Regions from separate parts of the Homo sapiens genome. Here region 1 is linked to region 2. Evidence: fine-mapped expression QTL. A gene starts in region 2. The other region holds a variant in brackets. All regions are shown on one strand. Distances are between the middles of the regions.

Region 1 (3,017 bases), 62 kb after region 2:
TCTGACTGTGCAGAGGAGAGCTCTGATTATGTTTTGGAAATAACTTCAGAGGTTTTGCTGTAATCTGAGCTTGCTGACAGTCACTGTGGCCTGAACTCCTTTCTAGTGATTGCACCCTTTAAATAGGAAATGCCTTCCAGCTACTTGGGCAGTGCGATACTTGTTTAGTTGTAGGCCCAGGAGCCTCATGCAAAGAAAAATTCTTATCAGAGGTTCCCATTTCAGTTTTCTTTCTGGGCTGTTCTGTTGCACATTTTGTTGTTGTTGGGCTGACATGTATTACAGCATTTCTTTATAAGCCCCCATGGCTCCTCTTTTCAGTAGATTAATTATGTTATTACTCAAAGGGAAATGTTGAACAAAGCAATGGCGACTCCATTTTATTAATCTTAAAAAAAAAAAACTGGAAATAGGCCAGGCACGGTGGCTCACGCCTGTAATCCCAGCACTTTGGGAGGCCGAGGCGGGAGGATCACCTGAGGTCAGGAGTTTGAGACCAGCCTGGCCAACATGGTGAAACCCTGTCTCTACTAGGAAAAAAAAAAAAAAAAAAAAAAACTAGCTGGGCATGGTGGCGGGTGCCTGTAATCCCAACTACTTGGGAGGCTAAGGCAGGAGAATCGCTTGAACCCGGGAGGCGGAGGTTGCAGTGAACGAAGATTGCGCCATTGCACTCCAGCCTGGGCAATGGAGACAGACTCCATCTCAAAAAAAAAAAAAAAAAAAAAAAAAGGAAATAATGCTGAAAACGAAATTTTAGGTAATTTGCAGATAATTTTAAAGATGGAAATGTAATTTTTCCACATAAGCCTTCTTCATAAATGTTTTTTATTGTGTAGAGTTTCTGATTTACTAATTTTCTTATTGTGAGCACTATATTTATCATCTTTGTAAATGATGATTTCTTTTCTGATAGGCTGTGGAACCTAACATTTACATCTGATTATCTGCCTTCCCTATTGACTCAGACTGTGTATTTTTTGTCTTGATTTTTATATTGTAAATATGTATATTGCAGGAAAAGATTGTATAGCCAAACTTTGAAGTGTCCAATTACTAAAAGTTGAGGTTTTAGTGGGAGAAATATTGTAAAAGATTCTGGTATTCCTGTTTGCAAATATAGCTTTGGTGAACAGTTTTCTCATGTGAAGGAAAAATTGCAGACCACAAATTTGTGGCTTCTGTTTCCTTATTT[C/T]TCAATAACAAGCTTTTACATCTGCCCCTCCCTTAAAATGACATGAAATTAAATAAAACTACCATTTATGAAATGTCTACTCTTCCAGTGCCTGTGCGAGACATTTTCACAGACATGATGTCATTTGATCTTTGCAGTAACCTTAGGCGAGGAATGTTAATGCCCCAACTTTTTACAGAGACGCTGAGGTTTGAAGAAGTGAAGGAACTGGTTGAAGGTGGACACACGGGTCTGGGGAACCCACGCGCTATTGCCTGCTGCAACAGTCAGATGTCATCATTCACATTCTCTCAGAAAAATCTGCAGAAACAGGACAGCTTCTTTCCAACGGAAGCCCTTGATATAGGCATCTAACAAATTCAGCATATCTGCTAATCAATTCATAATTTATTTAAAATGACCCTAAGCGCTTCCAGAGAAATTTTCACCAAACTTTTAGTTCCCAGTAACCCTAAAGAAATATTTAATGAAGCAGGTTTTACTCCCAAGTTTCCAAAATTTCCTACTCTGTACACATTAGAGTATGAGTAAGTATAAGAGAAGGAAAGCTTAGATCAGCACCTATTCATTTTGCTTTGAGTTTACATTGCTAAGTTCAGCAGTTCTCTCAGAGAGTCTGAGAGCTCCTCACTTCTGTGTAACCATGAAAATAAATGCATCCCTTGGAAGGGTCAGGGGATGTGGTCTTACCTGAGTCTGGGAGCTCGATGTGTACATGGAGGTAAGTAACTTCACAATTCCCAGGCAGTGCTGCTGTGTCTGTCGCCAGTGGCCAGCGGCTTGGGTTTCCCAGCAGGCTCAGCCCTGTGGGCAACTGGGAGCCACAGGGAGGCCAGGTTCCTCGCGGTGCCCGGAAAAGAACACTGAGGAAATCCAAAGGTATACATTAGACAGCCTGACAGGAAGCAGGAAGGAAAGTGGAAGGAATAGACAAGGAGTGAAGAGGCTGAGCCTCAAAGGAAAAATGGTTACCTTTTCTAAATGACCCATAGTTCTGACAGAAATTAGTAGAATGCTTCGAGAAGTGGTGAGGGGTATGGGCTTTGGAATCACACTGTCTGGATTCAAGCCTGATTCTGCTGAGTGACCTGCGACAGGTTACCTAAACACCCAGATTCCCTAGCTGTGCAGTGGAGGAAGTGGTAGTATCTACTGCCTAGAGTTAGAAGGATTAAATAAAATCATATATGCAAATGACTTAGTTCCTGAAAAACTCTACTACTGAGCAGTTGCTCAGTTAATGTTGGGTATAACCATGAACAGGGAAGTCTGCATTAAAACCAGATATGTGTGTTATACAAAGGAGTGTGTCAACACGTTTTTCAGTTTCACCACCAATATTGAAGAGCAGAATTTCCTAAAATACTTTAAAAATGAGTGGAGGACAATGATGTTGCCTTCCAGTCATTTAGGTTTCTTCATATGTGGTAGTAGAGTTTTTCTTTTTCTTCTTCTTTTTTTTTTTTTTTTTTTGAGATGGAGTCTTATTCTGTTGCTAGGCTGGACTGCAGTGATGCGATCTCAGCTCACTGCAACTTCCGCCTCCCAGGTTCAAGCAATTCTCCTGCCTCAGCCTCCCGAGTAGCCAGGACTACAGGTGTGCACCATCACGCCTGGCTAAGTTTTGTATTTTTAGTAGAGACAGGGTTTCACCATGTTAGTCAGGCTGGTCTCGAACTCCTGACCTCAAGTTATCCACCCGCCTTGGCCTCCCAAAGTGCTGGGATTACAGGCGTGAGCCACTGTGCCCGGCCGAGTTTTTCAATATAAATGTACTTTATTTGAGTTACAGAGAAGAGATATATAACTGGAAAAGACCTGG
Region 2 (2,742 bases):
GCCATTGGCTTCCTTGTGTGCTCCAGTTCTTTCCTCCCACCGAAGATTCAATCCGATAGATCAGGGGTAGGAAAACTTTTTCTGTAAAGTGCCAGACAGGAAATGCTTTGGGCTTTGCCAGCTGCTACTCAACCCTGCTGGGTAATGCGAAAGCGGCCACAGAAAACACAGATGCAAATGAGCGTGACCGTGTTCCAGTAAAATTTTACGGACACTGAAATCGTAATTTCATGTAATTTTCACGTGTCACAAAGTATTATATTTCTTTTTATTTCTTTTCAGTCATTAAAAAAAGTAAAAAAAAAAAAAATTCTTAGCAGGCCTTACAGTAACAGGCAGCAGGCGGGCAGTAGGTCATCACCCCAACGCTAGAGGAATGAGACCATATCGATCCGCGAGGATCAAGTCCTGATCCTGTCCCTGGCGACTTCTCCAGGCTGCGCGGTCTCTTGGAGGCAGCGTTCCCATTTTCAGGATTATTCCGGGGCGCTAGAGCACCACGCCACCATGAGTACACGTCCTCCTCGGCAGGCCACCTATCAGCTCTGTGAGGGTGGCAAGAGTCCAGGCAAGGCTTTCAGGGCGCAACCAAGTCCCGGGCTCCAGCACAGAAACCCTCTGGAAACACCTCCAGGCCCCAGCAAGGCGGCGCGGCGCGGCAGGGGCGAGCAGGTACGCACTCACCTGGCGCCAGTTCGAGTCCTCCCAAACACAGCGGCAGAGGCGACAGCCAAGCGCGCGCCTGTACCCAGTGCGCCGCTACCCGCAGCTCGCTCCCCGAGAGGCCCACAGCCCCTTTCCCCACGCTCCTCCTGGGTTAGAGGGATGCCAGGTAGGGGCGGTCACCAGAGGCCCCTTTTCTCTACTCTCGGCGCCGGGTTCCAGCCCCCGTTGGGGCGGGGCGGGGCGGGGCGGGGCTCCGGCTAGCTTGGCCTCTTCCGCGCGCCCCTGCGCAGCTCCGGCCCTTCCCTATCGGGAGCGCGCGCGGCCCGCGGCACTGCACTGGCGCACGCCCGCTTCGCCCTCGCTCGGCTCCGGCTGGTTCCGCCGCCGTGCGCGCCGCCCGCGCTCCTGCTGCGGCGAAGCTGCCAGCCCGGGAGCCAATTAGCGCTCGGCTAGGCGGGGTCCACTTCCTCGTCGGCCCGGCGCGCGCTCTGGACTGCTCCGGCGGCCGCGGGGCGGGGCGGAGCACTCGGCGGAGCCGCTCTGCCTGCGTCCGCTCTTCCCGCAGCCAAGGGTGGGCGCCGGTCCTAGGAGGCGCACGGTTGTAAGCCAGACAAAAAGAACTGGGGTGCCCGGAGTGCCAGGTGGCGGGCAAGCGGTGGGCTTTTCGGCGGGGTCTTTAGGATTTGCAGCTCCAGGAAGCGAGATGTCGAAGCCGCCACCCAAACCAGTCAAACCAGGTGAGGGAGGTAAGGTAGGCGCTTGCCAGGTCCTGCGACCGCCGCGGTGCCGGCGCCTCCTCTGCAGCTTGGCAGGGAGGACCCGGCGCGCACCCGGCCCCGAGCCTGGCTTCCGAGATCGGCCCCACCGGGATGGGCGCTCTTAGTTTTGCGTTCGCTGTTACGGAGGAGGGATCGATTTTGATAGCAAGAGGATTTCGAGGATTAATATATATATATATATTTAAAGGGGAGTAGCCCTCACTTTTGCTACGTTGTCATTCGCTGAAACTTTCAGAGGGTGTGATGGCAACGTCCCATGGAAGTTTTCCGGAAAGACAGGGCCATTGATCTCCCTTTAAAAAATGTCATGAAATGATCTTTAGCCACTTCCTCTTTTCTCAGTGTTTGTCACTGTCAAGTTAGGGTTCCTGACCGGCCAGAGCGAACGGGAAGTGCAATCCCTGCAGGGTGGGGTGGGCGAGCGAGCCTCCCTCGGGACTTAAGCGTGGAGCAGCGTTTGAAATTGACCTCGGGATCTTGGGAAGAGCGTTTAGAAAAAAACCCTATACTCGCGCTCCTGGTGGAAAGAATCTAGGATGCGGCAGTGATCTCAGCTGTTGCTATTTGGAAGTGTCATTTTATCATCTCCTTTGCCTTTGCTCTCCCAAAGACGTTGGCGTGCTAAACCTGAGAGGGCTGAGATTACTAAATTCCTCAAAGCAGTTTTCTGGGCGGATTGTCCTTGTTCATTTTTGCTCTGTTCTTAGAATATTTTCTGTGATATGCAGAAATAAGATAATTGTAAAAGAAACTGACGTATTTTAATTAAAAGTTGTAACATACTGTTCCGCTCATTCATTTGGGTAGGTAATTAGAAAGGACTGACGTATTTCAATACTTTAACAACTCTTACGTGCATTCATTTGGGTAGGTAATTAAGGGAAATACAGGAAATGGAAGATAAATGGCTCCGATGTATTCTTGGGTTTTTTCTTCCCATAGTGTAATTTCGGTATAGCGAAATGCTGAAATTTAATCCATTTACGTCAAATTTTGAAGTAACTTTCTTTGCAAGAGATGAGTTTCAGTGATTACTTTTTTCCTTGATTTTCCTAAACTCTATAGCTTTCATACTTATCTAGTTTTGTTTCTTTGCGTTCCTGCAGTTGGAGTATGAAGTCCCTTTATTTGATAATCATGTACGTACGTATGTGGAATAGTGCTTCACTGAGGACTGACATCTTGGTGGGCTGAGTGTGAAGGAAGTTGCTGAGACTGGCTCTGCCCTGGGCAAAGATGGGGCACAGCTAGAGTTGGGTTCTGCATTGCATTAGATGTGGAATCTGATGAGAAATTT

The links. PIP is the estimated chance that this variant, and not a neighbour inherited with it, causes the effect.
Region 1: its variant is fine-mapped to the expression of OSTF1 in blood mononuclear cells (TOPMed, PIP above 0.99). The same link has a PIP of 0.9 or more in T cells, monocytes and whole blood.

Annotation. Positions count from the first base shown.
Region 1 is chr9:75,148,725-75,151,741 of GRCh38, forward strand. No RefSeq gene overlaps it. Among named protein-coding and RNA genes, the nearest start is that of OSTF1, 62 kb to the left of the region's middle. The variant C/T (reference allele first, on the strand shown) is at 1,196.
Region 2 is chr9:75,087,324-75,090,065 of GRCh38, forward strand. OSTF1 (osteoclast stimulating factor 1) reads left to right here and starts at 1,191. Exons shown (of 10, transcript NM_012383.5): 1 at 1,191-1,403. The coding sequence starts at 1,370. It overlaps NMRK1 (nicotinamide riboside kinase 1), which reads right to left and starts at 832. Exons shown (of 9, transcript NM_017881.3): 1 at 685-832. RefSeq lists silencers at 702-1,301, 1,492-1,581.